Regions from separate parts of the Homo sapiens genome. Here region 2 is linked to region 1. Evidence: fine-mapped expression QTL. A gene starts in region 1. The other region holds a variant in brackets. All regions are shown on one strand. Distances are from middle to middle. Region 1 holds the start of C8orf82 (chromosome 8 open reading frame 82). Region 2 overlaps TMEM276-ZFTRAF1 (TMEM276-ZFTRAF1 readthrough).

Region 1 (5,156 bases):
CCCACACACGCTGCAGCAGAGCGGGCCTGGCTCAGGCAGTGGTTCTCAGGGGCCCCTGTCTCCGCCTCTGGGGTCCACCCTGATCCTGCCCAGTGATGTGATGGCTTCCCAGTCACTTCTAGCACATCCTCCCTTCTGCCCATTGGACAGTTTCCCCAGGTGTCTGCTGGGCACCCCGAGGCCTACCTGTGCAATGCAGCCCACTCCCCACCTGCTGCTCCCTGCCCTGTGCCCTTCTGCCGTGCCTGCTATGTCTAGCCTACTCCCCACCTGCTGCTCCCTGCCCTGTGCCCTTCTGCCGTGCCTGCTATGTCTAGCCTACTCCCCACCTGCTGCTCCCTGCCCTGTGCCCTTCTGCCGTGCCTGCTATGTCTAGCCCACTCCCCACCTGCTGCTCCCTGCCCTGTGCCCTTCTGCCGTGCCTGCTATGTCTAGCCCACTCCCCACCTGCTGCTCGCTGCCCTGTGCCCTTCTGCCGTGCCTGCTATGTCTAGCCCACTCCCCACCTGCTGCTCCCTGCCCTGTGCCCTTCTGCCGTGCCTGCTATGTCTAGCCCACTCCCCACCTGCTGCTCCCTGCCCTGTGCCCTTCTGCCGTGCCTGCTATGTCTAGCCTACTCCCCACCTGCTGCTCCCTGCCCTGTGCCCTTCTGCCGTGCCTGCTATGTCTAGCCCACTCCCCACCTGCTGCTCCCTGCCCTGTGCCCTTCTGCCGTGCCTGCTATGTCTAGCCCACTCCCCACCTGCTGCTCCCTGCCCTGTGCCCTTCTGCCGTGCCTGCTATGTCTAGCCCACTCCCCACCTGCTGCTCGCTGCCCTGTGCCCTTCTGCCGTGCCTGCTATGTCTAGCCCACTCCCCACCTGCTGCTCCCTGCCCTGTGCCCTTCTGCCGTGCCTGCTATGTCTAGCCCACTCCCCACCTGCTGCTCGCTGCCCTGTGCCCTTCTGCCGTGCCTGCTATGTCTAGCCTACTCCCCACCTGCTGCTCCCTGCCCTGTGCCCTTCTGCCGTGCCTGCTATGTCTAGCCCACTCCCCACCTGCTGCTCGCTGCCCTGTGCCCTTCTGCCGTGCCTGCTATGTCTAGCCCACTCCCCACCTGCTGCTCTCTGCCCTGTGCCCTTCAGCTGTGCCTGCTCTGCAGACACCCCCTCACGGTGGCTACACAGACGACTCCTGAGAAAAATCCTGTTTTGCACAACTCTGCTGGCGTGACCCACATGCCTCCAGGATCGAGTTCAGGCCCCCAGGAGCCGAAAGGCCCTCTGGGGTCAGGGCCCAGCCTGGCCAGATGGGCCCTGTCCAGAATGAGCCGGCCCTCCCAGCCTGTCCCCCACAGCACCCCTCCATGCATGTCCGCCACGGGACCCCATTTGGCCCAGGGGTGCCCGCCGAGCAGGGCCGCTGAGCCCCGTGCTGTGTCCCCAGCGTCCCTGCTGAAGCTGTGGTACCGGGAGCTGGAGGAGCCCCTGATCCCGCACGAGTTCTACGAGCAGTGCATCGCGCACTACGACAGCCCCGAGGCGGCGGTGGCCGTGGTGCACGCGCTGCCCCGCATCAACCGCATGGTGCTGTGCTACCTCATCCGCTTCCTGCAGGTACTTCCCTCCCCGGGGGTCCCCGCTGCTTTCCCCTCCCCGCCCCGCCCCCGCCCCTCCGCGCCCACCCTCGCTCCTCCACCAGGTCTTCGTGCAGCCGGCCAACGTCGCGGTCACCAAGATGGATGTCAGCAACCTGGCCATGGTGATGGCGCCCAACTGCTTGCGCTGCCAGTCCGACGACCCGCGCGTCATCTTCGAGAACACCCGCAAGGAGATGTCCTTCCTGCGGGTGCTCATCCAGCACCTGGACACCAGCTTCATGGAGGGTGTGCTGTAGCGGGGGCGCCCGGGGACAGGAGGGATGTCCTGCCGCCCCCAGCCAGGCCGAACTCCGCACTCGCTCTCCCGGCAGAGGGGCCAGAATCGCCCGGCCCAGCCCTGGAGCCCCCTCCACTCCCCCAGGCCCCTGGCCCCGGCGCTCCCCACGTCTTCTGCCTGGTCTGAGGGTGCAGCCAGGGCACAGCAGCGGCGGGGAGGGCGCCTCTGGCCCCCCACCTCACGGCCAGTTCCCGCGGGCACCGCCTCGCCCTCCGCTGGCCGCGGGTCAGCTCCGAGAAAGTGCCTTCTGTGTCCTGGAGCCGAGCGACGCTGCCTCCTTGGGGCCGGGCTGCCTCCCTGTGGCTCCTGCGCGCCCTGGCCTGGGCCTTGCCCAGCCGCCCCGGTCTCTCCTTCCCTTTCTCCTGTCCTCGTCCTGGCCTGCAGCTCTTCCCAGCCCCGAGAGAGCTTCCCGACCTGTCCCCGCCTCCTCTCCCTCCCTCGGCCCGTGGTCCCCAGCTGGTGACTGCTCAGGAGTTTGGGGGCTCCAGGACAGTGGGCCCGGGGCCTGGCAGGCTCTCGGTGGGTGGGGTGGGGGCCCCCAAACCAAAGTCCTCTGGGGTAGGGAGCAGGGCTGGGCAGGCATTCTGGGGGCAGGGTGGGGGAGGGGCGAGAGTATTTTTTTCTTCGTGTAACTGTAAATCCAGAATCTATCCTGCATCGCAGCCCACCGTGTATAGAGATATAAATAGAGGGAAAGATATAAGAACTAAATTTGCTAATGACATAGTTTTAACCTAAATGCTATTTATCTCTGAGCCGTCCCCGTCCTCCGTGCAGAGCAAGTTGAGGTCATTCCTTCTTTTCTTCTCCGATCTTTTTTCTTGGCTTCTGACCAAAAACCAAGCTCTACCCCATCCCCATCCCAGACCTGCAGGAGACGAGCGAGCGGGAAGGCGCCGGGCCCGGGACTGTCCGTTCTCGGGGCCAGAGCTGCTGGGGGACCGAGTTTGTACATTTTCCATTTTGGAATTTTGAGTTCCAATTGTTGTAAAACTTAATTTCTCCCCAGTTTTTATATATATATTTTTTAGAGTTCCGTTTTTATTTATTAAAAACAAAAGCCCCAGCCCTGCCGAGGCCTGGGCGGCGTCCTCAGTCGGGTGGTCCCGGGGCCTTTGCGGTCCCGCCCGGCTGAGACGCTCGCCCCGACGCATGGACCCGAGAGGCGACGACACGAGTGAATAAAGTGCACATGGACCCTGCGCGTCCTCCCGTTCCTTGTGGGCGCGGCCGGGGGCGGGAAGAGACGCGGGGCGGACCGGAAGGGGCGTCACCGGCACACGCCTCTCGGAAGGCCAGGGCGGGCGAGCCCCCGAGGCCCGAGGGAGAGGGAAGAGCGCCGGGCCCGGGTCGCGGAGGCGGGCGCCGCCGGAACGCGAAGCGCGGGGCTACTGCGGGCAGGCGCGAGTTCGCGCAGCACCGCCCCCGGCGTGACCTGCTGGTCGCTTCCGGCGCGGGAGGAGAATGTGGCCGCCTTGCGGGACGCTCCGGACCCTGGCCTTGGCGCGGTCGCGGGGAGCCCGGGCCTGCAGCGGGGATGGGGGCGTTTCCTACACGCAGGGCCAGAGTCCGGAGCCGCGGACCCGCGAGTATTTCTACTACGTGGACCACCAGGGCCAGGTGGGCGGGGGCAGGGCCGTTGCTCGAGAGGCGGGGCCGGGAGAGGTCTCTGGGCGGGGCGGGGGGGGGGGCGTGGCTCTGTGGGCGGGACCATTGCTCGAGGGGCGGGGCCGGAGGGACGTTCCAGGGGGTGGGTGGGTGGGCGGGGCCTGCGCGGTGGGCAACCTCGACTCCTCAGAGCTGGAGGAGAGCGCGCTGGAAAGACGGGGAGTTGGGTCGGTCCGGGCCGAGGCTCCTACATGGGCCGCGTCCCTGCTGCGTTGTGCAGCTTCGGACTCTGTCCTACAAGTCCCCAGCCCCGGCGCTGACTTCTCGCCGCTGCCAGGGAGACACCCGGGCCGCCCTGCCTTTTTTTGGAAGCCCTGTCAAAAGGCAGCTGCATGTCCGGGAGGCAGCAGGCCAGGTAGTCTCCGCGGAGGAGGTGGTACAACTGATTACAAACTTGAAAAGAGGGAAAAGGTGCGGGAAAGAATTGGCTGACCAGGGAGCAGAGGTGCGCATAGACGCGGATAAGTCGGCGGGGCCCCCAGGTTTACCTTTCACGCGCCTCCCTGCATGCGGTGTGCACAGACAAGCAGGAAAAGTGGGCTCGGGCCGGTTCAGGACCTCCCGAGCTTCAGGACCTCCTGAGCTTCCCCGCCCCCACCTGCACGCTGGGACTTATCACGGCCTGGCCCTCTATCTGCAGCTTTTCCTGGATGATTCCAAAATGAAGAATTTCATCACCTGCTTCAAAGGTAATGCTGTGCCTCCCTCTCCAGCCCCTTCTTTCTCCCTTCCGGGCAGCCCCTGATGGGCTCCCCGACTCTGCCGACGGGCCCAGCGCACCAAGGAGTGGGCGTCCTGCGCTCAGGAGCCCCGCTGAGTGAGGCCAGGCGAACCTCTTACCGTCGGCGCCTGCCCTCGGTATGGTCCTGGGCCCGGAGGCCTTGGGAGCCCAGCGCGCTGAGTACACGCACCCTTCATCCCCCAGACCCGCAGTTCCTGGTCACCTTCTTCTCCCGCCTGAGACCCAACCGCAGCGGGCGCTACGAGGCCGCTTTCCCCTTCCTCTCGCCCTGCGGCAGAGAGCGCAACTTCCTGCGCTGCGAGGACCGGCCGGTGGTCTTCACGCACCTGCTGACCGCGGACCACGGGCCTCCGCGCCTCTCCTACTGCGGCGGTGGCGAGGCCCTGGCCGTGCCCTTCGAGCCGGCGCGCCTGCTGCCCCTGGCCGCCAACGGGCGCCTGTACCACCCGGCGCCGGAGCGTGCGGGCGGCGTGGGCCTGGTGCGCTCCGCCCTGGCCTTCGAGCTCAGCGCCTGCTTCGAGTACGGGCCCGGCGCGCCTGCGCTGCCCTCGCACGTGCGCTGGCAGGGCCGCCGCCTCGCCCTCACCATGGACCTGGCCCCGCTGCTGCTCGCGGCTCGGTCGCCCTGAGCGGGGCCAAGGGAAAGGCGGGAGGCCGCGGGCGCCTCTCGCCCCGCTCCCCCGGGACTCCACGCCCCGGAAAGCCCGCGCCACCCGCGCTCGCGGCAGCCTAGTGCGCCTGCGCGCTCGGCCCCGCCCCCACCCGGCGCTGTCCTTGGTGCTGCCGCGGCCCGGCCCTCCCGGACACCCCGCTCCCCACGGCGCGCGCCC
Region 2 (5,156 bases), 72 kb after region 1:
GGCCATCACCCCAGCTTGGGTTCAGTCTACCATATTCTACTAGCTTTCCTTGGTGACCACGTTGATTGGCTGTCTCGAGCCAGCCAGTGTCAGGAATGCAGCAGGTTCCACCCTCTGTTCCTGCTAGAACGCTTTTCCTGACCCCAGCAGAACACATGGCTCAGGGTGGGCACCAGCCAAGCTGGGGGCTGACTTAGACAGTCCCTGACTCTGGTGAGAAGAGGGGAGTGGCCATGCTGAGCTTTGTGTGTTCTCCCTGGCACTGGGGCTGTGGGGGACAACTCCATGGGCCTCTGGAATTGGCTGGGTCCTCAGTAACTCGAGAGCTTGTCATCCAGATACCAGATGCCACCAGTGCTGGCAGGGAAGCCTCGGGTGGTGCCCCAGGTCTGAGCCTTTGGGCCTGCAGGGCCAGCTGACCCATGGGCCTGTGCCCGTACGATGATGCCTCACAGGCTGGGAAACCTGCTTGGGTGTCAGACTGAGGCCCTCATGCAAAAGGTTTCCGCCACCGCCGAGTCCTGCCTCACGTCAGGTTGGGGCTGCAGCCAGTACAGCAAGACTCAGCTTTTATGTTCTCTGTGTGGGTGTTAGATATGTTCTGGGGGACTGGCCTGACAAGGTGTGCAGCCACCTTCTGGAGTCTCAGGTGGGTGGCAGGAGGGCTGGTGGGGCAGCAGTTACACCTGTGCAGGAGCTTCTGGCCTGACCAGGCCGCGCAGGTGGTCAGGTCGTTCCTGCCGGCTCCCTGCTCTGCGGCCCGAGGGCAGTGTGGCCTGTTGGCACCTCTGCCCATGGGGCACCTCCTCTGGGAAGAGACAGCCTCAGCGGTGCCCGGGACGTTGCAGCCGCAGCCTCATCCCTGACTTCTCTCCCTCCATTTTGGCCCTTCAGACGAGGCCCAGTGTGATGCTGCGTAAGACAGACCTGGCCCTGACCCTTCCTGCTGCTGTCAGATGAGGCCCTGGGCCTTGGTGCTGGCACCTGGAGGAAGGGACTGCGCATTGTTCCCACCCCTCATGGGGCATTCTTAAGGCAAAAACGGGCTCACTCGGGTGTAAGTGCCGGGCAGGGGCCTCTCACAGATGTGGTCCAGCCGCTCCCTCTAACTCGGCCCTGCACAGTGCCCTGCCATTCCCATGCTCTCCTGCCTGAGGTGTCCTCTCCCTGCCCCTGCCCACCTCTTGGGCCCGGCAGAGGCAGCGCCCCCACTTTGAGACTTTGTTCTCTCCTTGCTACAAGGATCCCCTCCTGCCCCATCTGACCAGGGTGTGTCCACTCTGTTCTGTGGGTGGGTTGGTGTGTGCCGTGGCCCTCCCGCCTGTAGCGCCCATGTCTCTATGCCACATGTTGACAGTCCATTGATAACAGCCCAGGAAGCAGAGATGGCTCCTCTCTGCCCGAGCCCCACACCCCCAACCAGGCCAACAGTGTGCAGTCCTGGGGGGGTGGAGTCACCATCCACATGTCCAAGGAGCTTCGGGCCCCTCTTCCCCAGTCTCCTGGGCAGCAGTACAGGACTGCAGCTGACTCGTTCTTTGAGGTGAGGAAAGTGGCAGAAAACATCTTTGTAAATACGTCTGCTTAGGTATCTAAAACACAGGAGCAAGGAAGATGTTCTGGAATCTCTGGCTAGTTGGAATTTTTGTTTTCTGTGGTGGTTATCATTTGAGTTACTTTTAGATCTAAGCAGCCTTGTTCTGAATGTGGGCCCGACTCTGGGGATTGATTGGCCACCGTTTGAGGTCTGACAGCAGTAGCAGGTGAGGGACTTCAAATCCAGCCTGGGTGGAGGGTTCGAGTCCTGGCTTCATGCTTAACAGCTGTGCGGCCTTGGACAACGTGCCAGTCCCTCTCAGACCCATGTTTGATTCGGGAGGTTAGGGGCCGAGCACGCGGGGTGCATGGGGTGTGCCCTGAAGCACCACTGGCCCTGGTGAGGCCTTGCCTGCATGCAGATGGCAGAGGAAGGGGGACCTCCAACTGGCTGAGCAGCGCTTTTGGGGTTTGTGCCACAGGGAAGCCCTTTGGCTGCATTTTGGCTCTGACGACCTCTGTCAAGGGCCTGTGGGTCCCTGACCCCTGGGTGAGCGAGGGCACTGCTCCCATGGGCCTGGGCACTGTGCCATCCTCCAGTGGCAAACAGGAGGTCCCCAGGGTCTGAGAGAACCATGCAGTCCAGGTGTGAAAGGGGTCCTACAAGGTCAGCTGACCATAGAGACCTTGGGACCACCAGGAAATCGTGGGGGCCCTCAGCCAGGGGATGGGGTCAGGGCTCCTTGAGCCTGTTCCGCCCATCTAGCTCCCCTTTAACCCCAGGGAAGAAGTAGCTCAGGTGGAGACCCTGGGTCTGCATGGGGGTCACGTGAGCTGCCTGTAGCCAGCAGGGGGGAGGGCTGGGTGCTGTCCTGAGGATGCAGGTGCAAATGGCCATTTCTGGGCCACCTGTGTGTATCAGCATCTGCAGAGGGGCCTGGGGTCTGGCTCCTGGGGTTGGCAGCCCCAGGGGCTCTGCCATGGCTGCCCAAGGTGGTGATATTTCCTGTCTGCCTGTTGGGTGTGGGGCAGTGCCACCCTGTCCCATCCCACCTCATCAGCACAGAATGAAGCTGGTCCTATACTCATCACCTGTGCACATGAGGAAACTGAGGCCCCAAGAGGGGAGCCCAAGGTCATATTACTGGGGATCTGTGGGCTGGCGTCTGAGCCCAGCACTGTGGCTTCAAGCCCACATCTGCCCTAGGAGGGCCCAGGAGGCCCTGTGATGTCATTCCCCCGTGATGTCATTCCCCCATGACATCATTCCCCTGTGATGTCATACATGTGACGTCATTCCCGTGCTGTCACCACATGATGTCATCCCCTGTGGTATCACCTCTGTGATGTCAATACCTCTTTTAATGTCATCCCCATGGTGTCATTCCCCCCATGATG[CCATCCCCCCATGATGT/T]CAGTCCCCCATGATGTCAATTTCCCACAATGTCATCCCCTGTAATGTCAATACTCCCTTTGATGTCATCCCCGTAATGTCATCCCCTGTGATGTCATTCCCTCATGATGCCAGTGTGATGTCATCTCTGTGATGTCATTCCGTGATGTCACCCCCCATGATGCAATTCCCCTGCAATGTCATGCCCCTGTGATGTCATCCCCCGGTGATGTCATCCCCCCATGTGATGCCAGTCTCCCATGATGTCCCCCCTGTGATGTCATTCATGTGACATCATCCCGTGATATCATTCCCGTGATGTCTCCCCCATGATGTCATTCCCCATGTGATGTCAATTTCCCACGATGTCACCCCTCTGACATCATCCTCTGTGATGTCTCGCCCATGATGTCATCCCCCATGGCGTCATTCTTGGTCGTGGGGGGTTGTGGATCCCCTCCTCTCCCCTCCCTTGGGGTCTTCCTGGCTGGTGGGGAGAGGTGGCCTGGCCTGGGTGCCACAGCAGCTGCTCTGGAAGGTGCCCGGGCTCTTGGGGGCCTTGGCCCACGCCATCCCCTGGACTGTGCGGCGCCCTCCAGGGCCCAGCTTCTGTTGGGTGTTGGGCACAAGTCAGAATCAAGTGCATCTGGCCAGATGCTGCCAGGGCCAAGGATGCAGCTGCCTGTGGCCTGGCCTTGGTGTAGAGCCAGAGTCTTGCGCAGGGGCTGAGGGGACCCAGATGGTGGGGAGGCTCCGGAGCATGTGACCAGGGACCGTCCTGCTGTGGACAGACCTCCTGGGCTGAGTGTTGGTCGGGACCGGGCCATGCACCTAGAGATGTCCTTTGACCAGTGGGGAGGGTCTGGGGGTGAGTGTGGCTGTGTCCCTTGGCTACTGGGCCAGTGTAGTCCAGGGCACTCTAGGGACTCCCTGTGTTCTGACTTGAATGGAGCTATTGGGGCTGAAGGGGCAATGGCCCTGTGTCTCCTCGGAGCTTGCAGGTCCTCTTGGAGGCCCAGAGAGAGCCAGAGGAGGGCAGGGTCACTGCTGCCTCCTCATGGTATGGAATTGACTGAGCCCATGCTGGGATCTGGAGGCCCCAAAGGAATGAGGCCTGTGGCCAGGGGCCGGCCCAGGAGCTGGGGTGGCTTTCGGGGGAGAGGCCCGCAGTGCTGGGAGGTAAGTGGTGATGTGCTTGGCAGCCTCAGTGCTCCCTTAGGAGGGTCTAGGACCCCACCTCGAATCTTCCTGGGCTATGCAGAGCCAGGAAGAGAGGCCAGGTGGCCTTGGTGGGTGGCATTAGATGCTCCAGCCCTGCCTGGAACTCCCTTGGGGGTCGGGCCACAGCCAAGAAGAGTGCTGTTTTGCCTGTGCTAAGGCCACTGTACGTGCAGAGCTGGACCCAGAACCTCGTCCAAGGCCCCCGGCAGTCTCACCAGGAGGTGTTTAGAGCTGGCCACGTGGAGTGGCATACCTCCGGGGGGCGGGGGGCTGTGAGAGGACAGTGGTGTGGGCCCTTGGTCTGTGCCTCCCACAGGACAGCTGCTTCAATAGCATCTGTGCCCCCTCCTGCCTGTAGTCCACCCACCACTGACCCCTGGACTTGGCTGGCGGATTTTCACACCTTCTCCTGGGGGCAGGTCTCAGCTTGTCCCCAACCCAGTCAGAGCCAGTCTCACTCCCTGCCTCAGGCAACTGTGTATGTTTTAATTTTTATTTATTTATGTATTCATGAGATAGAGTCTCACTCTGTCTCCCAGGCTGGAGTGTAGTGGCACCATTTCGGCTCACTGCAACCTCCGCCTCCCGGGTTCGAGCCATTCTCCTGCCTCAGCCTCCTGAGAAGCTGAGATTACAGGCGCTCGCCACCATGCATGGCTAATTTTTGTATTTTTAGTAGAGATGGGGTTTCACCATGTTGGCCAGGCTGGTCATGAACTCCTAACCTCAGGTGACCTGCCTGCCTCGGCCTTCCAAAGTGCTGGGATTACAGGCATGAGCCACCGCCTGTAATTTTAATTTTTAACCAAACTGAGAACTTGAGGATTGAATGCAGGTAACGGGTGGTGTTCATGTGGATGTGGATTCCATGAAAGAGGGCTTTGTCCTCACTGTCGGTTCTCCACATGTAGGTCCTTTGACTCAGCAGGCCTTAGGCCTAGTCCACAGGTGCTGAGTGAACAGCCCCAGCGTCTGACAGCTCCTTAGCTTGGGGTGCACAGGCAGC

The links. PIP is the estimated chance that this variant, and not a neighbour inherited with it, causes the effect.
Region 2: its variant is the best candidate, but not a certain one, in a credible set for the expression of C8orf82 in whole blood (INTERVAL, PIP 0.77).

The regions. Positions count from the first base shown.
Region 1 is chr8:144,527,141-144,532,296 of GRCh38, reverse strand. It overlaps C8orf82 (chromosome 8 open reading frame 82), which reads left to right and starts at 3,186. Exons shown (of 3, transcript NM_001001795.2): 1 at 3,186-3,536; 2 at 4,225-4,273; 3 at 4,510-5,156. The coding sequence starts at 3,381. The coding sequence ends at 4,955. It overlaps ARHGAP39 (Rho GTPase activating protein 39), which reads left to right. Exons shown (of 12, transcript NM_025251.3): 11 at 1,426-1,595; 12 at 1,681-3,118. The coding sequence ends at 1,875. RefSeq lists silencers at 2,220-2,319, 3,051-3,640, 3,651-3,700, 3,658-3,952, 5,080-5,156 and an enhancer at 3,681-4,537.
Region 2 is chr8:144,454,821-144,459,976 of GRCh38, reverse strand. All of the region lies in intron 2 of TMEM276-ZFTRAF1 (TMEM276-ZFTRAF1 readthrough), which reads left to right. All of the region lies in intron 1 of ZFTRAF1 (zinc finger TRAF-type containing 1), which reads left to right. Among named protein-coding and RNA genes, the nearest start is that of MIR10400, 5.1 kb to the left of the region's middle. The variant CCATCCCCCCATGATGT/T (reference allele first, on the strand shown) is at 2,935.